Regions from separate parts of the Homo sapiens genome. Here all the other regions are linked to region 5. A link means that fine-mapping ties the variant in region 5 to the expression of a gene that starts in the linked region. Tissue or cell type: whole blood. Region 5 holds a variant in brackets; each other region holds the start of a gene. Each region is shown on its reference strand, or each on the opposite one.

Region 1 (4,077 bases), not on the chromosome of region 5:
GATCAGGCAAAGGCAGGCATGGTGAGAGGAAAGGCAGGAGGTGTTGGGGCCACTGGGAGAGGACTTATAAGGGCAGAAAGAGCCAAGAGAGGAGGGATATTGGGGAGAGTAGAAAGGCCAGCCAAAGAATGACTAAGGGGCTCCCGGTGTAAACAGGAGCAGGGAATGGACAGGGAGGGGGCCTGTTTGAGTTGGCCAAGGCTAGGGGTGGAGTGGGGAGGAGGACTGGGGCAGGACGCTATGTCCCCTGTCCCCCACCAAGGCTCCTGGGAGGAGCTGAGTCACACACCTCCTTCCCTGCACCCCTCCCCACCCCCACCCCTAATCTCCCAAATCCTGGGAAAATCTAAAGAGTTTGCCTAGACTGAGAAAGGAGAGTGTTTGGTTCACACACGTGTTTTGCTGGGCTAAAAAGCAATCAGGCCTCAGCCCTTCTCCTCCCAAAGGGGGTTCCCAGCCCATGGCTTGAGTAGCTCTCACCTAAAGGTTGCCTTTTTGGCAATGCTGGGCTTAAAGATCCTGACCCAGAGATTCCCTGGGTTCCTCACCTAAGAAAGGGTCAGGACTTGCAGATGTGAGAATGGGATACGGGCCAGCATTGCCCCACAGTCTGGCCAGCCAGCCTCTCCCTTGGGCTGCAGCTGGCTCTGGAGGGGGGCTTTTAAAAAAGCAGATGGGTGATTTGGGACAGGAAGTGGAGTAGCAGAGTGAGGGGGAGAGTCATGGCAGGAAAAAAACATTGACTCTGGGCACTCTTATTCTGAGCCTTTCAGCCCGAAGTGGGGCAGGGGACTGGAGAACAGAAGGGACAGGGTTGACAGGATATTATTGACAGGGTATTATTCTGGAAAGTGAGGAGTCCTGGAGGAAAGAGACTGAAAGGACTTGTAGTCCCCTCCCCCAGACTAAGATAAAGGCTAGAATCCTGAAAAGTGATCTCATCACACAGAGCCTGAGCTTGGGGAAGAGGTGGGCAGGGGGTCACTGCCTTCCCTTTCTAGAGTCCCTTCCTCTACTTCCACAGGGGAATCTGGGAAGAATGGGGTCCTGGCTTTCCGCTCCCATTGTTTTTTTGGTTTTTGGTTTTTGGATTTTTTTTTTTTTTTTTTTTTTGGATACAGTCTTGCTCTGTCACCCAGGCTAGAGTGCAGTGGTGCAATCGCGGCTCATTGCAGTCTCTGCCTCCTGGGTTCAAGTAATTATCCTGCCTCAGCTTCCCGAGTAGCTGGGATTACAGGTGCGGACCACCACATCTGGATAATTTTTGTATTTTTAGTGGAGATGGGTTTTGCCATGTTGGCCAGGCTGGTCTTGAACTCCTGGCCTCAGGTGATCTGCTCACCTCGGCATCCCAAAGTGCTGGGATTACAGGTGTGAGCCACCGTGCCTGGCCAGAGCTCCCAGCGTTTACAGCCATTAGGAGCTGAAGGTTGGGTCCCTTTGCAAGACTTTCCACCACCACCACCACCTCTCACAATTCTCCAGGTTTGTAGGAACCCGGCCAGTTTAATCAAGCAGGTACTGAGGGGCCAGCCACTCGCAGGCTTTTGGTCAACTGTCAGATCCAAGGAAGGGGCTCAGCAGAGGTTTACATACCCTAGGACCAAGAAGGGGGCAAACTGGAGCAGAATCCTCCTGATGAATGACCCCAAACTCCTGGGTTTTCAATACTAGCAAGCTTGGAGGAGGAAGCAGCGGAACTTGAGGAGCCCGTGTAGGTCCTCTAGCAAGCTGACTGCGAACGCTGTCTCTGTACCTCAACTGTTGTGTCCCAAATCCAGCTGGCCAGAACCCAGGCACCCGGCGGCCCCGGAAGGCAAGGGGGAATCCCAGTTGGCCGGACGCCAGAGGAGTCTCCTGTCTCTTTAGACCCCAAAGTCTCCTCCCTAAAGCACTGAGGGAGACCCCACACACATATACAGGCTTCCTCCGCCCACCAGAGGTGATTCCTTTCCTCATTAGGAAATTCTCCGCTCCCTTTTCCGACTCGTTTTCCGAGCGTTTACGTTGTACATCTGGAAAGGAATGGGGAGGAAGGAGGGGGAAGCAGAGAGGAGGGGGAAGAACCCAAACCCGCCCAGTCTAACCCAGTCCAGACAACCGGCTTCCAGCTGGGGCTGGGGAAAGGGGGTTGGAGGGGTGCGCCCCCCCCCCACGCCCCTTAGGGGTGGGGGACGCGGGCTCAGAGTTCCAGGGACCCAGGAATGCCCCCCCGCCAGCCCCCTCGGCAGGCGGGGGGAGGGCTCAGCCGGGAGTTTGGCAAACTCCTCCCCGCGTTGAGTCATTCGCCTCTGGGAGGTTTAGGAAGCGGCTCCGGGTCGGTGGCCCCAGGACAGGGAAGAGCGGGCGCTATGGGGAGCCGGACGCCAGAGTCCCCTCTCCACGCCGTGCAGCTGCGCTGGGGCCCCCGGCGCCGACCCCCGCTGCTGCCGCTGCTGTTGCTGCTGCTGCCGCCGCCACCCAGGGTCGGGGGCTTCAACTTAGACGCGGAGGCCCCAGCAGTACTCTCGGGGCCCCCGGGCTCCTTCTTCGGATTCTCAGTGGAGTTTTACCGGCCGGGAACAGACGGGTGAGTGAGGAGGGCTGGAGACGGGATGGGGGTGGGGGAGCCGCCTGGAGACTGGGGGCGCGGCTGGGGTCTGGAGGGGACCAGGGCTTAAGTTTGAGGGTGGAGTTTGTAAGGAATAGAGCTGCAGTTGGGGGCCCTGGCTAGAGTTGGGGGCCCGCGCTGGAGTAGGGAGGGCACCGTGGCGGGTGAGGAGGGGCCCTGGCGTTTGAGATCAGTGGGGAGACATGTGTCCGGTGGGGAGAGGACACGGAGCTGGAGAAGTCTGGGCAGGGGTCTCCGGGCCAAGGGAGAGGAGAGCGCGTGAATGGAGAGCTGAGGGTCTCTGGCTGAAGTCTGTGGGCTGCTGGGACCTGGGGCGGGTGGGGGCGCAGAGGGGGCGCAGAGGCCGGGAAGGGCTTTTGGGGGCTCCAGGAGACCTCGGGATCCGTAGGGGCCATTGTGCGGCGAGAGAACGGGTAGAAGCCGAATGAGCTACGTGTAGTAGGAGGAAAGTCAAAGACTGAGGGGGTCGGAAGGTTAAATGGGGGCCAGCCTCATCCTCCCCTCCCCCCTCAACTCAGACCGGGGAAAGACCCGAGAGAGGACGGCGGCTCCCTCTCCTTTCTCCTCTGTCTCCTACTCCTCCCTCCGCCCCCAATCTCTGTTCAGGCGAGGGGATCCGAGAACTGGGGGCGAGTGCGGGGACCCTGGCACTGGGGCCCTGGGGCTGGGGGCGAACTCAGCCAAGGGCGGGTGCTGGGATGTGTCGGGAGGGGTGTGTGCGCGCGTGAAGGGGGGTGGGCGGTTTCCCTCTTCCTCTGGCTCTTGGGAGGAAGAGAAAAGCTGGTTTCCTGTAGCTGGTCGGCTGGAGCTGTGCTGAGACCGGGACTTCTGGGGCTGGGGTCGGAAGCTGGGGAGACGGGGGCTCCGTGGGGCCAAGAACGTCAGAATGAAGGACTCAGGACCCTGGAAATCTCAAAGGAGGATCCTTATTCCCAACTCAGCACAGTGATAAGCAGACCCGGACCCCGAGTGCCTAGAAAATGGGGTACTGACAGGCTTGGGAAACAGGAGTTAGAGTGGAAGCAACATTAGAACCAAGGGTGTCTGTTTAAATGTGGGATGGCGGGGAGATTGGGAAGCAAGAGAGGTAGGTGGTTGCTCCTGGGCTAGGCCATAGATGCCAGATTCCTGGTCCTCCACAATGACTGGTGTAATCCTTTTTCTTCTACATCTCTGAGCTGGGAGCTTCCTACTGCTCACCCCCACCCCAACCCCAGGATCTCAGGGTTTGAGGGGAATTCTGTCAGAAGCGACCTGTTTTTACACATGAGACAGTTAACTGATCTCTACTCAGTCCCTATAGTTTTTGGAGAAAAGGGGTTAATCTAGCTAATACAACTGGGGAGAAAGGCAAATTCTCCTTTGTCTGGAGGACTTGGGGATGGGAGAAAAGAAAAATGATTAGGCCCCGACTGTTGTTCTGGGCTATTCAAGGTCCCCACCCAACCCCCACCCCACCCCCCTGG
Region 2 (4,077 bases), not on the chromosome of region 5:
CAGCTTTCTGAGTTAGTCTTAATCATTAAAGTGAACAAGATACCCATTCACTTTATCTGCATTTTTTTTTTCTTCATGATGAAAATGCCAGTTCAATACTGGCTTGGAAAACCGATTTTCACCTTACCTTAACCAAGTCAGAGTACCTCTAGATAATGGAGCGGAATTTTAAAGTTACTTCTCATTTTGGTACAAATTTGTGTTAAAAGGTATTCAAGCTGCTGGATTTACTGAGTTTTATCATATTGAACGTGAGAAAATCCAGAGGCTAGTTTCTTGAGATAAAAGGATTTTCTGTGACCGATGCTGGACACATGCAAAGCTTTCAAAATTTGGTTCCATCTGTTCACATGTCCATACATATTCTCTGCTTAATTTCATATGTCTTGAAAATCCCACTTTCCTTTTAGAAAATTTCTTGTTACAAGTTGAAGTCTTCAAATTCACCATTCAAAAACATAACAGAGTCCAATAAAATTGCCAAATTGTTAACATTTATGCTCTTATCCAGCTCTAAGATAACAATGATCCAGGTTTGGCTGAATCTACCAGTTATTTAAGGTTGTTTTTTGAGCACATTAAAATGTATCATTAGAAATCCTTCCATAAAAATACTTTTTAAAAAGTCACTTTGCCTGCCTTTTTTTTTGTTTTCAAACGAATCCAGTCATATCTGTAAAACAAGTTTCCATCAGATCTCATTTTATAAGCAACATCCTCTTCTAAGCCACCTGAAACTGACTTTGAAGAGCTCTTCAAACCATTTCAAAAATTTGTTTGTTGGCTTGTGCTTTCTTGGGTTAATGCTTCTAGAGTCGTCTCCAAGTTTCAAATTTTGCATGGCTGCTTTTTTTTTTTTTTTTTTTTTTTTACTTCGCTTCAAGAGTCAGTCTTAAATCATGTAGGTTTTGCTTGAGGTTTGCTCGAGCAAGAGGACCTTAGGTTTGGTCTTATTTGCATTTTTACCATAACTAGGCCTACATTCTAAATAAGTAACTAAATGCCACCTATGAGTTTCATTAACTGTGGCTGCTTGCCACTTTTTAGTTCTGGTTAGGGTGGTGCTATTGTTTTCCTCAGGTTCATTAGAAACATCTTCCGTGACAGCTCTGACGCGGCACCGATTTCTGAGTGTCCAGTGTTTTCCCTACCATTATTTTCTTTGGTCTGAAGTTGACACTTAAACTGTCCAGTTTTAAACCTCCGATCCGTGTTCCCAAATGAAAACATGACTTTCATTACGAATTACACGTCAAGGGAGCAAACCAAGGCGCTCGGGGCGGCGAGAACCGCGACACAGCGCTTCGCCTGGACTGGTAAACAAACCGCCGCGCAGGCGCAATGGCAACAGGACGGTAACCTGGGTAGCCGCCAATGGGCTTTTTCGTAGAGTGAAAAGCGGAAAAGCCAAACAAAACGCTGGTTCCAAGGTGATAAACTGGCTGACTTCCTCTATTTTTACTTTTTTAAAAAATTTTGTTTCTGAAGAAGTAGTTGTGCGGCCTTCTGGGCCTCGCAGAGATCTTCTTCGTGGAATTCCTCGGCCCCAGAGAAATGCCGCTAGCCTGTCGGCTAGTTATATTAGCCTAATTTTTTGTCTTGATCTTTTTCATTTGACTGCAGCACTAATCCTAATCCACTGGGGCAGCAAAAAAAAAAAAAAAAAAAAAAAAAAAAAAAAAAAAGGGCGGGTGGGATCTCAACGCCACGGAAAACCTTCATACTAGCCGGCCATCACCAAACCACGCGAGATCTGCCTGAGGAGAAGCGCCACCCCGGGAGTGCACGTTTGCGCATGCGTCTGGCTCATCATTTTTAGCGCGCAAAAGTTTCAAAACTTTCCGCCTAGTGAGAGGCGGTCCGATTTGGCCCTTGGGGAGTGTCCGTCGCGTTGATCTGATGGATTCACGTACACAACACCACATTCTATGAGATTTTGCAGGCAAAAGTCCACAAGCTCGTATGGTCATCCCTTCTTTCCGTTTTTATATTGGCCGTGAACTCTGTGAGGGGAGGTTTCAGCGACTGAAGTAGTAAAGGAGTGGGAGCGGGAGAGCCGATTAATGAGGTTGTAGAATAAGAGAGAAATCTGAAGGGACAAAGGAGTTTTATTTATTTTTTGGCTGGTGACCAAGAGGATGTGAGTGTGAGCTAAGGTAATACAGTGGGAAGGAGAAGATGGGAAGATTTGAGAGATAAATGAAGGCAGTAGCTCTGTAGCCTACCTGGGAGGCCAGACTAGAAAGAAGTTGACAGTAGAGGACATTTTTCTTAAAAGAGTGTGAACTTATGCATGTTTGTAAACAGGCAGAAATGGCATGCATTTAGTACATGGTGTATATAAGGTGGAAATCGGGACGCCCCTAATGGAATGGAATGAGGAAGATTCTAAAAGCCACAGTCCTGAACACAGGCCGAGGTGGAATTGCGAAGAACAGTCGCGGTAACAGAAGTCAGGAATTTGGGAACTGTCTCGAGGGATCTGACCAATCTGACCTCTTTTTGTCTCTCAGGATATATGGGACACCTGCACCGGCATTGGATTTGGCCCCGCAACATCTTAAAGGTACCACCCAACACCTGAAGTGTCTGCCTCCTTCCGATGGAGCCTCCTGGCCCCTCCCACCTCTCACCAGCTTTACCCTTTAGCCAGAATGAAATGTGGATTTCATGGAATGAAATGGTGGCATTTAGCTACCACATTACTCAGATGTGTCACTGACACCTTACAGAAGTACATACTTCTAGCCTCTAGCCTCCCAGTTCACTAGATATTAGAGTCCATCTTGATATCGGCAGCAATTCTATGCCACTTAGCTACTATAATTTGATTCTTTGTATACTATCTGGAGTACAAGGCAGAAGAATGCTGATGGAATACGTAATTTTACTCCAACAAAGGAATGGCTGATAGGTAAAGAGTATCACTTCATCTGTAAGAAAAACTAAATATGGAAAGCCACAGGATTGAAGCTAGCAGTGATGGAGAAGGATCCCAGTGTGAATATATAGAATGGAAGTACTTCAGTAAAGAGCCAGGCATGGTAATCACTTACCAAGAAAGTGACTTCATTTCATTTTGGCAGCCTAAAGTATATCCTGGCAGCTGCGCTGTATGTGTGAAGTGCATAGGAAAATGCTGCAGGAAAAATCCATGGAGGCAATGGAATAGGATTTCAGGGTTGAAGCCTGGGTGTCTTGTTTTAGGGAGTGGGATCATCCAGCTCTGAGAGGCATGACATCTCGATATGATGTCATATAAAGTGTGTACAATTGGGAATCAGACCTGGGCTTTGACTTTAGGGTCTGCCAGTCACTCTGTGTGTCCTGTCTGAATCTCAGTTTCTCAATTTATAAAATAAGGATAATAGTGCCTGTGCCATAGGATTATTGTAATGACAAAATGAGGTAGCATAGAACTTAGTGTAAAGTACATGCCACCTATCAGTTGAATTGTGGATGCTCTGTGCATCGTAGGTCCGTCTGTATTTAGGGAGCTTTAAGACAGGTACTCTACCGGGTCAGGCGCGGTAGCTCACGCCTGTAATCTCAGCACTTTGGGAGGCTGAGGCGGTCGGATCACAACGTCAGGAGATCGAGACCATCCTGGCAAATACGGTGAAACCCCGTCTCTACTAAAAAAAAAAAAATACAAAAAATTAGCCGGGCGTGGTGGTGGGCACCTGTAGACCCAGCTACTCCAGAGGCTGAGGCAGGAGAATGGCGTGAACCCGGGAGGCAGAGCTTGCAGTGAACCGAGATCACGCCACTGCACTCCAGCCTGGGCGACAGAGCGAGACTCCGTCTCAAAAAAAAAAAAAAAAAAAAAAAAAAAAGACAGGTACTCTACCATGCCCACACATTAGAATCACCTTGGGAGCTTAAAAAAATCCTAATGCCCTGGCTTTTCTCTATACCAATTAAATCAGAATCTCTGCGAGTGGAGCCCAGACATCAGTACTTTCTTAAAACCCTCCATTTTGCAACAAAGGTTGAGAGCCACTGCTTTAAGAGTTCCCTCTAGGGCCAGGCACGGTGGCTCACGTCTGTAATCCCAGCACTTTGGGAGGCGGAGGC
Region 3 (4,077 bases), not on the chromosome of region 5:
AATTCCTGTCATGGAGCAGAGCTTGGTGAAGTCAGTGGGGTCAGCTGGTGAATGAGCAAAGTGCTCTGTGAATCCTGGGTGGCCGTTTGCATCCAGTGGAGAGCATCATTCAGTGGAGACAGGGTGGGTTTGGGAAGCAATGTGACCATGTCCTCACTTCCCCTCTTCCCCCAGCCTATTCCAATCAGCCTTTCCTTCCCGTTACTCCACTGAAATGGCCCTCATCAAGGTCTCCCATGACCTACAAGAGCCCAATCTCTGCCCTCATCTCTCTTGACTCTGTGACATTTGACTTTTGCTTCCTTTTGGAAATGCTTTCTTTTCTTGGCTATTGTGATACCGCATTTTCTTGGTTTTCTTCCAAAGCTGTATCTACAGCCCTGACCTCTCTACTGAATTCCCAACTCATATAGTCAGCTGCCAACGCGAGATATATCCCAAATCTGATCATTTTTTACTGTGACCATGTCTGCAACCCTAATTTAAGTTACTAGCTCAACCCCTGGATTTCCACAATAGAGCCCAATCTGATCTCTACTTCCTGGGTCACACATCTCCTTAGTCAATTTTCCATATAGCTGCCAGAAATGTTCCTTTTTAAAACAGTGGATCAATATAATCACCTTCTATTATTAGCTTGAAACATTCCAGTAACTGCCCACTGCAAGGAGAATAAAGTCACTTTTCTGATGGCCTGAAAGATCTCATAACTGGTCTTCTTCATCCCTCTGACTTCCTCTCCTCCCAGTCCCTCCACTGGCCACTGGATCTCCTAGCACTGACCTCCCTGTGACCCCCAAACAGCCAGGACCACTCCTGCCCCAGGGCCTTTGCACCCACTCTGTACCTCAATCCCCATCGCTGGCTCCCCATTGCTCAGGCCTCAGTCCAGAAGTCACCTCCTCCGAAAAGCCTTCTCTGACTGCCCCTAAAGTAATTGCCCCATTCCATCGCCTCCTCTGCAATGGCCCCACTTCAGTGTTCTTCAGGGCATTTCTAAGATCTGAAATTCTTTATTTACTTACATCATCTGTGTCCTTTCATGAGAACATGAACTCTCCGAGTCAGAAGCTTTATCTGTTTAGGTTACAACTGTGCCCTCTAAAGCCTAGAGAGAGTCCAGCGCACAGAAGCCTCTGAATAATCTATGTTGGAGAGATGCTGCATGGGTTAATGCTTGAATGACTCCTGACTTCACTGCTCCTTATGGTGTTAAGGGACAAGGACTTACTTCTCCATCAAGCACAGCTTGCTCAGGGCCAAGGGCTCACTGCACTTTTAGGAACTCACAAAAGTCTTTTCTTTCTAATTTCTTTTAAAATCAGAAGAAAAAATATAATAATAATGAAAATGTAATAATGAATCCAGCCTGGTTTACATTCATCCTTATAACAATGCAGTCATGAAATACAATATTTTAATATTTTGGGGGGGACAAGTCAGTCCTTCTGATCCTCAGCTTTCTCTGAACCATAATCCCAGCTCACAGGGCCCCTGGGGAGAATTAGACAACGTGACGTGTAAGCGTCAGCTGTGAGGGGTAATGTGGGGCTATAGCTCCAGGGTGGAGGGTTTACAGTGTGCAAGGGCATCCTAGAGCCATGAGACCTACAGGGCTCTCTGGGTGTTGGGAGATACCTCTTTCGCTTCTTATAACACTGCAAGAGACAGACAGGGTGGCTCTCACTGTGTCCATTTGAAGGCTAAAGAAACTGCAGCTCAGACCAGTTCAGCAACTCTCCTACATCGTGTGGCTAAAGCTAAGAATTGTGACCCATTTTTCTGAATCCAGGTCCCCGCGATGCCCTGGGTTCAGACCCTAACACCCTCCCGTCCCTGAGTGCTGGGGATTTAAGGCAGCAGTGCCTCCTTTCAGGAAATCACACACACACTGGAAACTCCTGCATACTCCTCTTACTATAATCTGTCACCAAAGACTGGATATTCCTGTGCTGGGGCTCGTGCCAGCGCCTCGGGCTGCCAGGTGCTGCTTTCCAACTCCCACATGGGCTGCCCTCCCCCTACTGCTACCCACAGGGCCCCCACTCCACCTGCTCCCAGACGAGGCCAACTCCTGGCCAAGCTTAGGGGCACAGCGGAGGCGCTCTGTTTCTGATTTTTCTCGCCTTCCTTGGAGATGCCTGTGCTTGGAAGGGAAGGCAGAACATTGCATCTTGGAACAAATCTGCTTTTGATCATGCAAATGAATGCCTGGATAATGTAGGCAGACTGTCAATTTCACCAGTTAGAAAGAAAGAGAAAAGGGGGAGAAATTCCCCATGACAGCGACTGATGAAGAATTTCAATAGAAAGCTGCTACTTCAGAAAATAAGATCATTTGCTGCGAATGGAGAACATCTCAGGCAGCCCTGATGCTCCACCGGTAGGTTGCTAACTTTGCTGTCATTGGGACCCCCTGGGTGGGCCATAGGTGGCCTGGGGTGGTATGTGGGGGAGGGTCTTCAGAGGGACTTGATGGATCCTGTACCCACCCTCCGTCTTTGGTCTGAAGAAAATGGGTGGGTCTCTGCTGGTGGTGAGTAGCTCCAGGGGGCAGGACTTGGGGTAAGAGGCTCCACTCCTGTCCCTCCGTGACTTCCCTGGGAAGCTGCACTGCATGTGTTTGTGGACTGGGATCCAGCTGATACTTATGCAGCGTTGGCATGAGTAGAGAGCATGCATTTGTGTTTACTACAATTTGGAAAATTGGTCTCAGGTCAGCTGAGGTGGTTCAGAGATTGGACGTTCTTTGTATTCCTGCTTTCTGTGTATAATTATCTGAAGAAGGGATAACAGCTTTGGACACTAATCTTAATATTAAAATTAAAAAATTAAGGGAAAAGAACGAACATTTATTGAAGCCAAACTATTTTCCAGATATTGTTGTGTATTTGAATTTTTGAACATCTTTATGAGGATATTTACTAATCATCTCCCAACTTCACAGATAGGGAAACTGAGGCTCAGACTCTGGGTAACTTGGATGCTCGTGATTGCAATCCAAGGACACCCAGGACACTCTCCCTGCTGTGTTGACACATGACCAAGGGAGCGGGGTCCTGGTCAGTTCCTGGCCATTGTGTCACTCCAGCTGACAGTGCTGCTATGGGGCCCAATGGCACCTGATCTCCACCTCCTGAGGTCTTGGAATAGATGTCCATCTCTCCATATAGTATGTATCAATGGTGTTTCAGTTGTTTGCCTTGTCTGTTATCATCTGACTGCAAGCCCTTCTGAGGGGAGGAATTCAATTTGTATTTTATGCTGAAACACCTGGCCCAGCATGACTAAACAAACAGGTGTTGGTGTTACAAAAACATGCTGGACACCCTGTTTAGGTGGATGTGGCAATTTACTGCAATTGATATGTCCTGTTTCTCAGCCCCAGATGGGGCAGGAGGGGCTGGGTGGGTATCAAAGGACAGAGGATGGAGTAAAAGGCATGGCTGAGATTGAGGCCCTCCAGAACCTGCCATCTTCAGGTCCTCCTTGGCTGATGGTGGTTGGACCCAGGTGCCATGGAGCCTTCTTGGGGCAAACAGAGAAATGCACAAGCCCAACTCTAAATTCAGGTTGGGAGTGGGCTGAGGCAAGGGAGGGCAATACAAGGGCACATTGGGTTGAAGTCCAGAGGAGTTTCCTCACTGTTGGGAGGGTGGGAGCATAGCTCATAACTCAGTTTCCACTTGGTTGTCCACTGTGCCCTCTTGCAGTTCTGTGTGGGGTAGAATCCTGAGGATCTCTCTAGGTGATGCTTGCGTATGGTGGGGGTAAGGTGGTGATAGCGCATCCCTGACCTAGTGTTTATCACAGATAGGGTAATGGGTAGAGCCTGCCACCCGCCACCCTCCCCACTCCTGCCCTGCAATTGGGGTCAGAGACCTGCAGTGGAGACTTGGCTTTCCAAAGGACTAGTTAGCTGACCTAGAGACACCCGGTAAACCTCACTAAGCCTTTCTTTCCCAGAAAAAAAATCGTGTTAAATACTGGTTCATGGTTCCCTACCTCACAGCCATACAGTTGAGATAACGTAAAGTAAGAGCATGAGTTACTTCACTTAGGCTAACCCCTAAGGCT
Region 4 (4,000 bases), not on the chromosome of region 5:
CCAAGAGAATACATTTCTATGTAAATTAGCAATCAGGAATTTATCTGTTTTTGGGCTTCTTCATCTATCTAAAGTGTATATTTAGTGACCAGAATTATAGTCATCCTATAGTGAAAAAATAGCATACAAAATCAAAGTTTAATGAGTAAATCATGACATTATGCCATACTAAGAAGACATCAAACGTCTAAAACCATAGGAAGAGAATATATTAGCCCTTACAGAACTTAAATTTTTAGAAATTCTGAATAAGGAAATATATTCTGCACAGATAACGGTATGACACACCCAGTGTTCTAATACAGTACAACTTAAATAGCATCCTAGGGTAAAGAGTAACATATTCCCCAAGAAACAGAACTAAAATATTTCCTATTTTATGAGAAGAGTGAGTAAGAACAACAGGATACCTCCCTCAACAGCACACTAATAAAACATTATTTCCATACGAAATCCACAGCCTTTTCGGTAAGACTTTAAGGAATGTATGATAGAAATACAATAGTTATCTTCAATTCAATATTCATTGAAAGACTAATAACCAGTGATTCTTTGCTCACAATATGGTCAATTGCCAAAGGGTTCAATAACTTATCAGGTAAAATAACAGTAAATAGTGGAAATACTATATTAGTACTTCATTAGCTGAGCTGTAAACTTCAGGGAGAAGCGTAGGCTTTCCCCCACACTCTTCAAAGTAGGGAATCCATGTAGAAAATGGAAAAAAACCAACCCTTCCTTCTTATTCTTACTGGGTCCAGGGATCTCCAGAAAACTGCTCCGCTGAAGACTGGGCAATTTTATGATGCATGGTCTTTTTTGTTACTCAGTTTTTCTTGTTTCCACTGTTGAGAAAAGAGTTATATTAGTATAACCAATTCCCACACTCTTGTATGCTACATTTGGTTTTCAAAAGCGTTTGGTGGGGGAAAAAAATCAATAAAAGCAAAGAGCAGACAAAAAATAGATGTCAGTAATGAGCTCTGTGTAATTGTTCAGGCATGTAAGATTGGTGATAAAGGTTTACCCAGAACATTCCAGAAAAAAAGTTTCCTTATTCTTCTTAACAACCTTATAATTCTAAGCATAGTCTAAATCCTACAGAGAGAATAAGGACATTGTGAAGTATATGCTTTCCATAGAAGATATTAAAACACCACAAAGATCAAAGGGACAAATACCTGTCCAAAATTTTCTGGATGACTTTCTTTAGAAAAGGGGCTTCCGGGTCCAGACAAACTTGCTTCCCGTTCTTCAGGGAGGCTCTGAAGTAAAGAAAAAGAGGATGCACCCATGAGCCACAAAGGTTGACGACCCAGGCTGGAGGACTTGCCTAAGTCACAGTGGACACAGCAACACAGGAGAACTTACACCACTTCCACCTTGGAGCACTGCGGGCCTGCGGGGAACACCTGCAGTTTACCAATCGTTTTGGGGTTTACTCTCAGCGTAACGCGTAAACAAGTGCAACGCAGCTCTGTCAGCACAGCAGAGACAGGACCAGCTGGGGAAGAAAGACATTTTTATAGGGCAGGTTGCTGGGAGAGTTCCCTGGAACGCAGCGGCCCCGCAGAGGCTGGGATGCACCCCAGTGCCAGGAGCTCTCACCGCTGGCGAGGGGCCCCGGCGGCGTCAGCAGGAGCAGCAGCGCGAGCAGCGCGCACAAGGAGCCCGAAGGACCCGGGACACGGGCCGCGCGGCTGGACGGGAGGCTCATAGTGGTCAAGAGAGGGTTCGCGGGTTCCTGAGCTGGGTGGAGGCGCGGAGACTGGAGGATACAGAGCACTTTGGTTTCCTCGTGCCTTCTGCACTCCCTTTATCTGCATTCATCCCTCCCGACTGGCAGGAAACTCAAGCTTTGGGATGCTGGGGAAATTCCCTGAACTCAGGGGGCAGTGTGGAAAGAAGGGGTTGGTGGAGGGGGGCGGGAGGATGGGAATTGGTGGGGTGGGTGGCTGGGAGGAGCTGCCTGCTCCCTTAAGGGGGAGGACATTTTAGCCCCGCCCCGCGGTGGAGGGAGCTGTGGCTCCAGCCAAAATAGAGCAGCGATTCAGCAGGGTCTCATCCCCTGGGCTTGAGGGGTTAGCGAGGCTGGCTTCTCTGAGGCACGCAGCTGTCTGGGAGATGCTCCTCCTCTCCAATGGCCAGGACAATTAGGCAGGAGAAGGAAATAAAGGGTATTCAATTAGGAAAAGAGGAAGTCAAATTGTCCCTATTTGCAAATTACATAATTGTATATCTAGAAAACCCCATGGTCTCAGCCCAAAATCTCCTTAAGCTGATAAGCAACTTCAGCAAAGTCTCAGGATACAAAATCAATGCACAAAAATCACAAGCATTCTTATACACCAATAACAAACAAACAGAGACATGGTCTCAGCCCAAAATCTCCTTAAGCTGATAAGCAACTTCAGCAAAGTCTCAGGATACAAAATCAATGCACAAAAATCACAAGCATTCTTATACACCAATAACAAACAAACAGAGAGCCAAATCATGAGTGAACTCCCATTCACAATTGCTTCAAAGAGAATAAAATACCTAGGAATCCAACTTACAAGGGACATGAAGGACCTCTTCAAGGAGAACTACAAACCACTGCTCAATGAAATAAAAGAGGATACAAACAAATGGAAGAATATTCCATGCTCATGGGTAGGAAAAATCAATATCGTGAATATGGCCATACTGCCCAAGGTAACTTATAGATTCAATACCATCCCCATCAAGCTACCAATGACTTTCTTCACAGAATTGGAAAAAACTACTTGAAAGTTCATATGGAACCAAAAAAGAGCCCGCATGGCCAAGTCAATCCTAAGCCAAAAGAACCAAGCTGGAGGCATCACGCTACCTGACTTCAAACTATACTACAAGGCTACAGTAACCAAAACAGCATGGTACTGGTACCAAAACAGAGATATAGATCAATGGAACAGAACAGAGCCCTCAGAAATAATGCCGCATATCTACAACTATCTGATCTTTGACAAACCTGAGAAAAACAAGCAATAGGGAAAGGATTCCCTATTTAATAAATGGTGCTGGGAAAACTGGCTAGCCATATGTAGAAAGCTGAAACTGGATCCCTTCCTTACACCTTATACAAAAATTAATTCAAGATGGATTAAAGACTTAAACGTTAGACCTGAAACCATAAAAACCCTAGAAGAAAACCTAGGCATTACCCATTCAGGACATAGGCATGGGCAAGGTCTTCATGTATAAAACACCAAAAGCAATGGCAACAAAAGCCAAAATTGACAAATGGGATCTAATTAAACTCAAGAGCTTCTGCACAGCAAAAGAAACTACCATCAGAGTGAACAGGCAACCTACAAAATGGGAGAAAATTTTCGCGACCTACTCATCTGACAAAGGGCTAATATCCAGAACCTACAATGAACTCAAACAAATTTACAACAAAAAAACAAACAACCCCATCAAAAAGTGGATGAAGGACATGAACAGACACTTCTCAAGACATTTATGCAGCCAAAAAACACATGAAACAATGCTCACCATCACTGGCCATCAGAGAAATGCAAATCAAAACCACAATGAGATACCATCTCACACCAGTTAGAATGGCAATCATTAAAAAGTCAGGAAACAACAGGTGCTGGAGAGGATGTGGAGAAATGGGAACACTTTTACACTGTTGGTGGGACTGTAAACTAGTTCAACCAGTGTGGAAGTCAGTGTGGCGATTCCTCAGGGATCTAGAACTACAAATACCATTTGACCCAGCCGTCCCATTACTGGGTATATACCCAAAGGACTATAAATCATGCTGCTATAAAGACACATGCACACGAATGTTTATTGCAGCACTATTCACAATAGCAAAGACTTGGAACCAACCCAAATGTCCAACAATGATAGACTGGATTAAGAAAATGTGGCACATATACACCATGGAATACTATGCAGCCATAAAAAAGGATGAGTTCATGTCCTTTGTAGGGACGTGGATGAAATTGGAAATCATCATTCTCAG
Region 5 (4,077 bases):
GGTTGGTTGGCTATTCAAGGTCCCTTGTAATTTCATGTGGGTTTCAGGATTGACTGTTCATTTTCTACAAAAAAGATTGATGAAATTTTGATAGGGATTGAGTCTATAGATCATCTTGGGGAGTATTTTCATTTTAATGGTATTAAATCTCTCAATCCATGAACATAGTATGTCTTCCTATTTATTGATGTCTCTTTTTTTAAATTAAGGTTTTGTGATTTTTCAGCATGGAAATATTGGTTCTTCTTTGTTAACTTTATTTCTATGTATTTTATTCTTTTGAATGGTATTGTAAATGAAATTTTTAAAACAACGTTCAAATTGTTTATTGCTCATGTATAGATTTGCAACTGATTTTTGCATATTGGTGTCATATCCTACAACCTTGCTGAACACATTTATTAATTCTATTTTTTTAGTGTGCTCTGTAGCATATTCTATATATAAGATCATGTCATCTGGAAATAAATATAGTTCTACTTCTTCTTTTCCAGTCGAAAAGCCTTTTATTTCCTTTGCCTGACTAATTTCTCTGGCTGGAACTTCCAGTACAATGTGGAATAGAAGCAGTGAGAATGAATATCTTTGTCTTATTCCTGATCTTAGGGGAAAACAATAAGTCATTTTCTATTAAATTAGCTGTGGATGTTTCATAGATGTCTTTTATTAGGCTCAGGAAATTTCCATTTTTTTCATAGCTTTTTGAGTGTTTTTATCATGAAGGGGGTTAGATTTTTGTCAAATGTCTTTTCTGCATTAATTTAGAGGATCATATGGTTTTATCATTTATTCTGTTGATATGTTATTTTACATTAATTAATTTTCAGATATTAAACCAACCTTGAATTCCTGGAATAAGTTCCACTTGGTATGCATACACATGGTATACAGTTTGTGTTATATGTTACTGGATTTGGCTTGCTAGTATTTTGTTGAAGGTTTTTATATCTATATTAATATGATATATTGATTTGTTTTCTTGTGATATCTTTGGTATCAATAGGAAGTTAAGAATTTATAAGCGGCAAGGAGTAGGGGCAGATTGGAAGTATTCCAAGTCTCCTAACTAACTAGGGAAAATGTTTCAAGTCACACAACAGTGCAAAAAGAGCAAGAAAGAGTATACTATGTTTTCTGTTTATCTTTGACACTTACATTTAGGGCTTCCTTAATCTATTTTATCCCATTTGTGAGCTTACTTATTGAATTGGCTAAAGAGACAGGAACAAAGCTTTATAGCCATGAGAGAACTGCTGTAATCTTGGTATCATGGATGGAATGTGCCTTTGAATAGACTTGATTTCTCTTACCTCTTTGTTTCTCTATATTTAAGGGATGAGCTATGAAAAGCCTATTAAAAATAACATGAGCCAGTCTCATTATGCTTGGCTGAACTTAGATTCCAGTAAATGTTTGTGGATTCCTTTTCTAATCACTACATTAACTGGAATTAATAACTGAGAAACAAAATACTACTACTCCCAATTTTTTTTAAGTTGTGAGTGTATGGCATTATTCATTTCATCTCCTCCCAGCAACTTGTGTTTATGCACACACACACACACACACACTCCCCTGCCCCATGCAGGTATGAATATGTGTGTATATGCATCTCTGTGCTTATATGATTAAACATGACTCTACTTTTGAACATTCAGTGAAAATTAAGAAATAATTCATACAGATGATATAGGATGGCTTAAGCCTAAAGCTATCATTCTGGGTTAAAAGTAAAATAGTACATGCAAATGAATTTCCTATCATAAGTTTCTTATTTCCAATTTTCACAGCAGCTCTGACATAGGTTTGAGGGCTGACATTTCATCCTTGGCTGTGCAAAGTTCCCAGATCATGACGGTTTGTTGCTGGGAGTCCAGAGCAGAACTGGAGGAAAGGTGCTTCCACTGCTTCTTCCCAGAGAGGGAGGGGCTGGGAGCTCCTTGCCACAGGCTGACCTCTGTCCCCTCCCTTGTTGAGCTGGTGGTTGCCCAGT[C/T]CCTGCAAGTGTTACCTCATTTCCTCTATTTGGAGGTCCTCCTCTACCTCTTCCCTAATTCATCTCCATGACGTGTCTCAAACTTTTTTGCATGAAGTTGTCACTAATTCACTTCACTCACTCGGATCACTCCTTTGGGCTCCTCTATCTTGAGATAGGTCAGATGCCATTTACAGAAGAAACTCCATCTCCAGCCACGTAATGAAGTAAAGAGATAGTCATAGGTGGTGCTTAGTCTCCCCACTGGGGTAAGAAAATGGAGGCTGGAGGAACCCACAGGGCAAGGATGCTGTCAGGGCAGGGGAGGCTGGGCACAAGTGTCCAAGAGCACAACAATCTCAATCTTGTTCAGGGAAAGTTGTCAGCTGTGGGAGTGGAAGTGGGGTAGGCAGGTGGTGATGGGATCCCAGTGGTAGATGGAGTGTAGACCCTGAGCATATTGGCTAAATGATGCCAAGCAGTATGGAACCACTTAAAAAAATGGTTCTTGGAGCCTTGCCACCTGGTAGGGTGTTCAGAAGCTGGACTTCAATATTGAAAGCAAGGCATTTGGAGGACTAAATGGAGACAGAAAAGGGCACTTAAAGTCCTTTCCATAGACTAGGGCATGCACAGGACAGGGAGAGTTGGTAATTGAGGCACAGAACAGGAGCTCCCTGGTTAGCCACGTAATAAGAGTGATGATATTAGGTTCTGCCTGTTGAATAGAGAGAAGGGGATGGTTGCAAAAGTTTAAGTAATTGCAACCTCAGTCAAAACAGATTCAGGAACTAACTGTGGGAGAGGCAGTGAGCATGTGGGTATGGGTGATCCCTTAACTGAATTGTAAGAAAGTAGTGGGAGAGATCCAGGGTGAGGAGGTTACAGTGCCATGCCAGGAAAGGAGACCTGCTGATTGGGCCACTCGGTAGTTAGGTGAGTAAGCCAGGTCAAGGGCTTACAATTTTTCAGAATAGAGAGGATCAATTTTGTAAGGGCATCTTGAAGTGATCACATTCTCAGAAACAAGCCCATGGTAGTCAAACTCACATGATGCCAAATTATAATCCAAAAATAATCCTTTTGTGAATTTACCATAAGAATCATTTCTTTCTATTGATATTGACATATGTGACCCAGGGTACCACTTCCAAATCAGTAACTATTAGGATATGATTGGAGCACAGGATGGTGAAAACTCCCAGAACACTTCTAGGTACTATTCAGGTCTCTTTAATGCCAGTGTGGGCCCAGTCCCAAATTTGACAAGCATCACTCATGGCTTTCTTCTCCTCCCTTTTCTAATTCAGATTCTTTCTACCACCACCCTCTCCTCAGGTCTGTCTCTATCATTGATGGCACTACTCTTTCTTCATTTGATTTATGTGTGGTCTTATTCTCTCTTGCTTTGATTTAGGAGATACTGCTTTTCTAAAGACCACCACAGAATGCCACTTTCTGCATTGCTTGAAAATTCTGGTAACTGAACTTAGAAGCTCATCTTAGGTGTAAGAACAAACTCTTTTAACTTCTCTCTGTGGGCCAAACAGGCAAAATGAGACAGCCTGTGTCCTTCCAACATTTTAGATCCTTAGTCATTCTGATGAATGAGTGGATGGAGAGATGGACGAAGAGCTCACAAACTCAGAAACAACCAGAGGTGTAACATCTACTAGTCTTTTTGTCTTTCATGAAATCTCACCTTCTCATTATTTTCCTTATCTGTTTGATTATCACAATTGAGCACTTATTCCTAAGCACTATTGCTTATTATGCCTCTTAGGGTTTCTACTCCAGAGACACACAGCCTCTTCCTGACCTGGGAATGTACCACCACTTGGTGCTGAATTGTGACCCCAAAGTGCTCAAGGACCCTCCCCAGGAAGGCAGAACACATGCTTAAACCTGGGACTCTTGAGAAAATGCACATTCTGATTCTGTACATCTGAAGTGGGGCACGAGGATCTGATTTCTACCAAGTTTCCAGGTGGCACAGGTGCCACTTGTTCCTGGACCTTGAGTAACAAGGCCCAAGTGGTAAAATCAAGGGCTTGGAGCTTAACTCTCCTGAGTTGGAATCCCATTTTCCTCCATTATCAGCTTCA
Region 6 (4,077 bases), not on the chromosome of region 5:
ACTTGGTATATGACACACCAGCCACGTGCCACACAGGCACCGCACTAATCACTTAAACCCATTATCTTATTCAAACGCTTAAAACCCCTGAAGTCAGAATGACAACACCTGTTTTGCAAATGGGACAGGAAGTGACTTACCCAAGACCACACAGCTACAAAGCACCAGAACTGCAAAGCATTTCTCTTTCTACTTTCTAGCTGCTTAGTAGGTTTCCAATGTCCAACCCTACAAATAAAAGTTTCCACATTCTGCTTTTTCTCTTTCTTCTCCCAGGGGCCCGGTGGAGAGGCTGCAAGGTGCCCCTCGACCCTCTAAGACAGCTCAGCCAGTCCCTGCTGCAAAGGGCACACGCTGGCTCCTCTCTGTGCAGAGGACACCTTCACCCCTCACTCCGCCGCTTTGAGGATGGAGCACCTAACTTGGGAGAGGAGGTTTCAGCCTGCGTGGACCCCAAGAACCATCCGAGGGGTGGTTGGGCTGAGAACTGGCAGAGGGGGTCTTCCGGTGATGGGGTCTGGGGTTGCAAAGAAGGTGCCTCCAGGATCGGATCCCTGTGCCCAGCCGCTTGAAGCGCCTTTAGCTTCTTATCAAATATTAACATGCCTTTCCTGCCACCTCCCACCTAGAGGAATAATTAAGAGCTCGGCTTCACCATTAATCTTTAAACGAAAATCACCCTGTCCGGAAAGACCGGCTCCGCAGAGGCCTTGGGGCTCCGGGTCCCCCACCCCCCGCCCCCGCCAGGCTCCCAATTCAGCGCTGGAGGTTAGGGAGGCCAGGGGAGCTTGCGACCCTCAGGGGCAAGGAACCCGTGTGGGAAGCGCGGCTTCCAGGACCCTGCCAGACCGCCCTTGCTCTGGCCGCGGGGCAGTCACCCAGCGCTGAGTCCCAGCGGGACGGACGGAAACCCACGGGCAGACGGAGGAGGCTGGGTGAGAAAAGAAGGCGTGCGTTGAGGCGGGTCCGAGAAGCATCCTTTTTTTTTTTTTTTTTTTTTTTTTTTTTTTTTTTTAAACGGAGCACCAGGCTGGAGTGCAGTGGCGTGATCTCACTGCAACCTCCACCTCCTGGGTTCAAGCGATTCTCGGGCCTCAGCCTCCCGAGTAGCTGGGATTACAGGCGTGTGCCACCACGTCCGGCTAATGTTTGTATTTTTGGTAGAGATGGGATTTCACCATGTTGGCCATGCTGGTCTCGAACTCCTGGGCTCAGGTGATCCACCCGCCTCTGCCTCCCAACGTGCTGGCATTTCAGGCTGGAGCACCCGCGCCCGGCCTGAGACGCATCCTTATCAGGGACTCCCAACTCGTCTCGCCGGGCCACGCGCACACACCCTCACCGCGCACACCCGTGCACACGCTCCCCCAGCCGGTGCTGACACGCGTGTGCACACACAAGCTCGCGCGCTGCCCAGTCCTCCCGCACCCTCGCGGCCCCCGGCGCACACGCAACCCGGGACCCCAGCGCCACCGACGCTCACCGGTCGCCCGCGGGGGGATCCTCTGCAGGGGCGGGAGCTGGGGGCACGGAGGGGACCGCCGAGGGGCACCTGGGGCCGGAGCCCGGGAGCTCACCTGCACTGGCCGATGGCCGCGCCGCGGAGAGGGCCAGGAGCGCCAGCAGCATCCGCATCTTGCGGGACAGCAAAGAGTCCTCTGAGCCGGGGGTCGCGCACCGAGGAGGCCGCCGCGGGTGCAGCGATCCTGCCGGCCTGGGTTTTATAGCGGAGCCGCGACGGGAGGGAGCCCCGACAGCTGGACGCGGGAGGCGGCTCCTCCCCCTGGCGGGGCCTGCCCTCCCCTCTCCACCTTCCCCTGTCCCTCATCTGAAATCCTCCGCTCTCCCCGGTCCCCCGCCCTGCCTGGCCACCTCTTGCCCTGTGCGCAAGGCCCCCTCACCCACTCCGCGTCCTCTCCACTCAGCAGCGGCGCCCTGCCCCTCCCCCATCCTACTCCTGGTCCCTGGTTTGGGAACAGGGACACGACACCACAAAGTGCTTGACCCACACAAAGATGAGTGCCCCATGATGACTTTGATCATTCTGGCGCCACCCCTGCGCAGTGGTCTTGAATGGGACCTTGGAATGGCCTTGGGGTGGGGGTGGGGGTGGGGGTGGAGATGGCCTCGAAGAGATGAGAGGCTGAGGGGCGTGTGATGCCGTTTGTTGAATCAGTGGCCGCAGAAAGGCTCTCCTATCTCTCTTTGGCAGTGGCCATTGATTCTCTGGGTCTCATCTCTTCTATTTCCTCCCAGGCTGCTCCAAACTTAATTTCTAAGCAGACCAAAGACCTTTCTTCGAATACAGAGCAAAGCTGTCCCTAAACTACTGCCCTTGCTGGTGTTTATGTGATGACCAGGGAGGGTTGATGGGGCAGAATTAAGAAATGGATTGTAAGAGGATTCGGTGAGGGAGAAGCTGATGGGGTCAAAGGGGAGGAGCTAGGTTCTTTGAGCCCCCCAGGTGGAGAGATGAGATGGGAAGAGAAGAGACTGGGGTCTGAATGGACCCCTGGTTCTCCCATCTGGCAAGACCTCCAGAGGAGTCCAGGGGAAGTTCCCTTAAGGGCGGCTCCAACATTTGGGGAAATGGGGTCCCCCCCATGCCCCCAAGCTGCCTCTTGTCTCCTCTCTTAGCTGTGCCCTCCTGCTACTGCAGGTCCTCTGTGTCCCACATGGGGTGGGGGCTTCTGTGGGAGTTTGGGAAGCTCAGGCTGGGGTGCGGGAGAGGGACGGGGAACCAGGCAGTGGACCTGGACCTCCTCCATCAATCCATCAACAGGAAGCCCCCTTTTTCTGGTTTAGCCACTCCCCATCCGCTGCCAACCTCTCAGTCCCTACCGACCTTCGAACCTGGGCTAGGGACTTCTGAAGGGGGATTGCCTCCCCCAGAAGGATTCAGGCAAAGATGCTTCCTCCTTGCTTAGGGTTGAGGCTGACTCCCCGCTCCTGGCCCAGGATCACACAGCCTCACAGAGCAGCTTTGATCCTACAGAGAGGCAGGAGGGAGGTGAGGGGGTGTCCATGCCAGGCTTAGGGCTCTATTGTCAACACCACTGTATAATGTAATCACCAGCCTGCGACCATGACAGCCACAGGAGGGATTCCACACCCAGAGCCTATTCTGGGGAGTGCATTTGTGTTCACAGGGCTATAAAAATGTCCCTTTCAGGACTGAGGAAGCCTGTTCCTGGGAATAAAAACCACCCCCAGGGAGTCCCTGTGACCTCTGGCCAGCCCCCTGATGAGCAGGGGAGAGGCTTGGGAAACTTTGGTGGGGTTAAGGGACTGTTGATCAATGATCCACTTTAAAGTTCATTGCATTCAGGCCCCCCAGGAGAGAGGGGGGCCCTGGGTGCATTTTGGGACCATAAAGATGGGTGAGGAGAACGAGTCCCTGGTAGGGCATCCCCTCTGAGGAATGCGGGAGGGGTAAAGCTATACACTCTCTTATGGGTGCATCTTAATTATGGGCACCACAGAGCCTGCACATTGGCGATGGGGTGGTGGACTGGTTCCTGCTCCATCTGCCATCTCTAACTTCAAGGTTACACAGGGTGAGTGGCCCTCTCTTCCTGTTCCTGGTCTTAACATTCTCAGCCTTATCTCCAGCCCTGACCCCAGTCCTGGCCTGCCATAAACCAGTCACCTGTCACTATTTAGACTACCTGGGGCCCTGCTTACCTGTAGGGGACAAGGCCTGATTTAGGGTCGTTAGAGCTGGAATGAGTGCTGACATGTCCCAGCGACTTACAGGGCCCATAAAGCTGCCAGCCCAGGCCACCTGAGTGGGAGAGCCCAGCCCAGCAGCCCCAGCCTCCTTCCTCTTACTCTGCAGAGGCCCCCAGTGTTCTGAGTTCAAGTCTTTGCTCTTCTTCTGACTCACGGATGACCTTGGGCAACTTTCCTGCACCCGGCTGATTGCAACTTCCTCATCTATAAACTGGAGATGGTAATCCCTGCCCGGCTGACCTCCACCAATAAACAGTTATTTGGAGTCTGCTGTGAACCAGGGCCTGCCCAGCCCAGACTCTCACAACCGGCCTCTCAGTGCCTGGGTGTAGCCACTGGCCCATG
Region 7 (4,077 bases), not on the chromosome of region 5:
CACAGCAATGATTGTCTTGAAGTCGTAGAATCTTAATAAGACTCCTTTGTTCAAAGCACATTTTCAAGGATAGCCTTATGTTATCAGAGAACAGAGTATGTCTGTAATGGATACAGATATTAACACATACTTTACTGCCCATAAAACAAGTGTTCCTGAAGAACTTCTGTTTTAACAGCTGACCAAATTATTACATTTGAATTTGCAGAATTCCTCTGCCTCCCTGAGAGCAGAGGAAATTAGGCATTGCCTTCCTATCTTTCTTGTGCTTCTTTTTGTTAATTAAAAGCAAAATAAAAATTTTAAAGTGGGCCCTGGAGTTTCATTAGGGTTTATAAAAAAAAAATAAAAAAATAAAAAAAAAAGAAGGGCTGGTGTGATGGCTCATGCCTGTAATCCCAGCACTTTGGGAGGCTGAGGTTGGGAGAAAATATTGAAGCCAGGAGTTTGAGACCAGCCTGGGCAACACAACGAGACCCCATCTATACAGAAAATAAAAACATTAGTTGTGTGGTGGTGTGTGCCTGTAGTCCCAGCTACTTGGGGACGCTAAGGTGGGAAAATCACTTGAGCCCAGGAGTTTGAGGCTGCAATGAGCTATGATCAGACCACTGCACTCCAGCCCAGGTGACAGCAAGACTCTGTCTCTTTAAAACAAAACAAACAAAAAAACAGGTTTGGAAGCTACTGGGCTAGAGAGTGACAGGGATGCCAGACAAGGGTATGGGGAAGGCCTCTGTGAGGAGGGGCAACATTTGTTATCCATCTTCTCGAGGGCCAGGATTTTTGTCTGTCCTATTCTCTGCTCTAATGCTAAGAACCGCATCTGGCATCCAGTAGGTGCTCAATAAATGTTGAATAAATTTATCAAACACAGAGCACCTACTATATGCCAGGCACTGTTCTAAAGACTTTCCAAAAGCTTAACTCCTGGCCGGGCACGGTGACTCACGCCTGTAATCCTAGCACTTTGGGAGGCCAAGGCAGGTGGATAACCTGAGGTCAGGAGTTCGAGACCAGCCTGGCCAACATGGTGAAACCCTGTCTCCACTAAAAATACAAAAATTAGCTGGACATGGTGGTACACGGCTGTAATCCCAGCTACTCAGGAGGCTGAGGCAGGAGAATTGGTTGAAATCGGGAGGCAGAGGTTGCAGTGAGCCGAGATCGTGACACTGCACGCCAGCCTGGGCGACGGAGTGAGACTCCATCTCGACAAAACAAACAAAAGCTTAACTCGCAATCTTTGCAACACACCCTACCTATGTTGTAGGTGCTGTCTGTGAGCACATTTTACAGAGGGGAAACAGGCTCCAGAAGGGGGGTGTTATCTGCCTGAGGGTTCTCTGATGGAATATGGCCCAGCTTATTCCCTCCTAATCACCCCAGACCCTGGTGTTGTCCCCAGCTGGGCCCATGGAACAATGGATAGACCCCATTCCCCTCCTGAATCCCTCCCCAGGCTCCTGCCACTTCCCTTTCTCACTTCCCTTGTGCTGACCTCCCCGACCACAAGCTGACCACAGGGAACCTCTCAGGAAAGGAGGGCCGAGGTTAAGGGAGGGTGGAAGGTGGAGCAACTGACTCGATGCTCCCTCCACCCCCACGAGCAGGAACATACTGAGCACCGCACACTCACTTCACCCTGGTTCAACACCCCCACGAGGTTGACCCCGTCATTATGTTAGAGATTATGCATTTTCCACATAGGGAAACTGAGGCTCAGGGGTGTTAAGTGACTCACCCAAGGTCACACGGCTAGGAAGTTGCTGCACGCTCCTATGCTCCATTTCCTCTGGGTGAGAATTTGTCCTAGGAGCTTCTATTGAACACTGTGAGGTTGCTGGGAGGAGCGCGAGGTGCTGGGGATATAGTAACAAACAGAACAAGACCAAGAGTAAGACAGGAAATGGGGAGGGGAGAGTAGAGAAGGAGGCAGAGGGGACAGGGTGGGGTCAAAGCAGGATGCCCTCCCAGTTCCTCCTGCCTCTAGGTTCCTCTTTCCCTGCTGATTCCAGGAGCCTATCAACCCAGATAAAGCGGGACCTCCTCTCTGGTAGAGGTGCAGGGGGCAGTACTCAACATGATCACAGAGGGAGCGCAGGCCCCTCGATTGTTGCTGCCGCCGCTGCTCCTGCTGCTCACCCTGCCAGCCACAGGTGAGGGGGTGAGGGCCCAGCTGGCCCCAGGGGTGTCCAGGCCCACCACATCCCTGACCGAGCCCCACCCACCCATCCCCTGGCCCTGTTACAGGCTCAGACCCCGTGCTCTGCTTCACCCAGTATGAAGAATCCTCCGGCAAGTGCAAGGGCCTCCTGGGGGGTGGTGTCAGCGTGGAAGACTGCTGTCTCAACACTGCCTTTGCCTACCAGAAACGTAGTGGTGGGCTCTGTCAGCCTTGCAGGTTAGGGGGAGCCTGGGGTGGGGGATGGGGGGGAGGGAAGGACTGTCTGTGGGGGTCACCCAAAACTGGGCACTTTCTTTCTCTGGGACTTCCAAGGGTGGCCCTGAGGCCCTGATCGTGACCATACCTCAGGGTTTCTCAACCTTGTTACTATTGACATTTGGGGCTGGAAATTCTTGGCTGGGGGAGGGGATTGCTTACCTGTGTATTGTGGGATGTTTTGTAACACCCCTAGCCTTCCACTAGATGCCAGTAGCAATTCTCCCCACCAGCTGTGACAACCAAACATGTCAGCAGACATTGCCAAATGTCCCCTGGGGGTCAAAATCACCCCTGATTGAGAACCACTGACATAGCTCACACATATTGAGCACCTCCTGCACACTGGAAGCATTGCAGGTGGGGTGCAGCTTGGTATTTCCCTAATTTTGATGACAGCTCATGTTTATTGAGTGCTTACTGTATATGGACACACTGTGGGGGCGGGAAAGTTTGGGGAATTCAAAGGGCAGCTCTAGGCCCCTAATTATGATGACACTTCACATTCATTGAGCACTCCCTGTATACCAGCTGCATGGCAGGGTTGGGAGATGAGCTTGAGGATTTCTGAGGGTAGCTCTAGTCTCCTGATCATGATTTCCAGCTTGCATGGATTGAGCCCTTACCGTATGCCAGACCTGTTTTCTACTTGTTTACTATATATCCCAGATACACCGTGGGCATGGGGAGCTTGGGGATTTTTGAGGGCAGCTCTGGGCCCCAAGTCATGTCAACAGTTCATCACATCTATTTGGCATGAACAGCATACCTAGGGCTATGCAGTGGGTTGGGGATAGATCTGGGGTTATTTCTGAGGAGGCCTCTGAGGTCATAGGGATGATGGCTCAGGTTTATTAAGCACTTTCTATTTACCTACTACCGTGTAGTGTGGTGATCTGGTGGGTTTCTGACAGCAGCCCTTGGTTTCTAGTCCTTACCTTTGCTTACTGCGGACCTGGTGTTGGCCATGCAGCCTTCCAATGGTAACTCCAGATGCCTGATTGTGAAGGTAAATGACATTATCAAGCACTTATTGTATATCCACTGCTTCCCATCAGTATCCCAATATCCCTAAAAGGTAAGGACTTATCAATCCATCGCACACGCACTTGCCTAGCAACCCTTCGTGTCTGCCCACACTCTGGAGTCCCACATGCCATTCTTGTTAGCTCATGCCAGGATGGGATGTGTGTGCTCTTCTCCACAGGTCCCCACGATGGTCCCTGTGGTCCACATGGGCCCCCTGTTCGGTGACGTGCTCTGAGGGCTCCCAGCTGCGGTACCGGCGCTGTGTGGGCTGGAATGGGCAGTGCTCTGGAAAGGTGGCACCTGGGACCCTGGAGTGGCAGCTCCAGGCCTGTGAGGACCAGCAGTGCTGTCCTGGTGAGGAGGATGAGCAAGGCGGGCAAGCACTCCCTGTCACCCAGCACTGGTGGGAACGATCGGTACAGAGGTCCTCAGAGTGGGCCCGTCCCCAGTGTTTGTAAGGACCTAAGGAGGAGAGTGGTGGGAGGTGAGGTCAGAGAGGTGAGGAGGGTCCATTGCCTGGGGGCCACAGAGAGGACGTTGGCTTTTCATCTGAGTAATTTGGACTGTGGGCAGAGGAGGAACGTGATCTGACTGGGGTTGGGAGG

Evidence for each region. PIP is the estimated chance that this variant, and not a neighbour inherited with it, causes the effect. A credible set is the group of variants that fine-mapping cannot tell apart.
Region 1: ITGA5 starts here. The variant in region 5 is fine-mapped to the expression of ITGA5 in whole blood (TOPMed, PIP 0.99).
Region 2: it holds the start of GPR19, and the variant in region 5 is the best candidate, but not a certain one, in a credible set for the expression of GPR19 in whole blood (TOPMed, PIP 0.60).
Region 3: SLA starts here. The variant in region 5 is the best candidate, but not a certain one, in a credible set for the expression of SLA in whole blood (TOPMed, PIP 0.51).
Region 4: CXCL6 starts here. The variant in region 5 is fine-mapped to the expression of CXCL6 in whole blood (TOPMed, PIP 0.97).
Region 6: CA4 starts here. The variant in region 5 is the best candidate, but not a certain one, in a credible set for the expression of CA4 in whole blood (TOPMed, PIP 0.52).
Region 7: it holds the start of CFP, and the variant in region 5 is the best candidate, but not a certain one, in a credible set for the expression of CFP in whole blood (TOPMed, PIP 0.57).

The regions. Positions count from the first base shown.
Region 1 is chr12:54,417,473-54,421,549 of GRCh38, reverse strand. ITGA5 (integrin subunit alpha 5) reads left to right here and starts at 2,284. Exons shown (of 30, transcript NM_002205.5): 1 at 2,284-2,569. The coding sequence starts at 2,352. The region is part of intron 2 of GPR84-AS1 (GPR84, ZNF385A, ITGA5 and GTSF1 antisense RNA 1); the gene reads right to left.
Region 2 is chr12:12,693,948-12,698,024 of GRCh38, reverse strand. It overlaps GPR19 (G protein-coupled receptor 19), which reads left to right and starts at 1,842. Exons shown (of 4, transcript NM_006143.3): 1 at 1,842-1,960; 2 at 2,514-2,566. RefSeq lists enhancers at 1,675-1,754, 1,935-2,094.
Region 3 is chr8:133,100,859-133,104,935 of GRCh38, reverse strand. It overlaps SLA (Src like adaptor), which reads left to right and starts at 2,334. Exons shown (of 9, transcript NM_001045556.3): 1 at 2,334-2,383. All of the region lies in intron 43 of TG (thyroglobulin), which reads right to left.
Region 4 is chr4:73,834,468-73,838,467 of GRCh38, reverse strand. CXCL6 (C-X-C motif chemokine ligand 6) reads right to left here and starts at 1,790. Exons shown (of 4, transcript NM_002993.4): 1 at 1,609-1,790; 2 at 1,372-1,504; 3 at 1,182-1,265; 4 at 1-845. The coding sequence starts at 1,717. The coding sequence ends at 827. RefSeq lists a silencer at 1,522-1,816.
Region 5 is chr7:50,219,135-50,223,211 of GRCh38, reverse strand. No RefSeq gene overlaps it. Among named protein-coding and RNA genes, the nearest start is that of IKZF1, 84 kb to the left of the region's middle. The variant C/T (reference allele first, on the strand shown) is at 1,994.
Region 6 is chr17:60,147,593-60,151,669 of GRCh38, reverse strand. CA4 (carbonic anhydrase 4) reads right to left here and starts at 1,697. Exons shown (of 8, transcript NM_000717.5): 1 at 1,578-1,697. The coding sequence starts at 1,635.
Region 7 is chrX:47,627,851-47,631,927 of GRCh38, reverse strand. It overlaps CFP (complement factor properdin), which reads left to right and starts at 1,998. Exons shown (of 9, transcript NM_001145252.3): 1 at 1,998-2,159; 2 at 2,254-2,404; 3 at 3,651-3,826. The coding sequence starts at 2,084.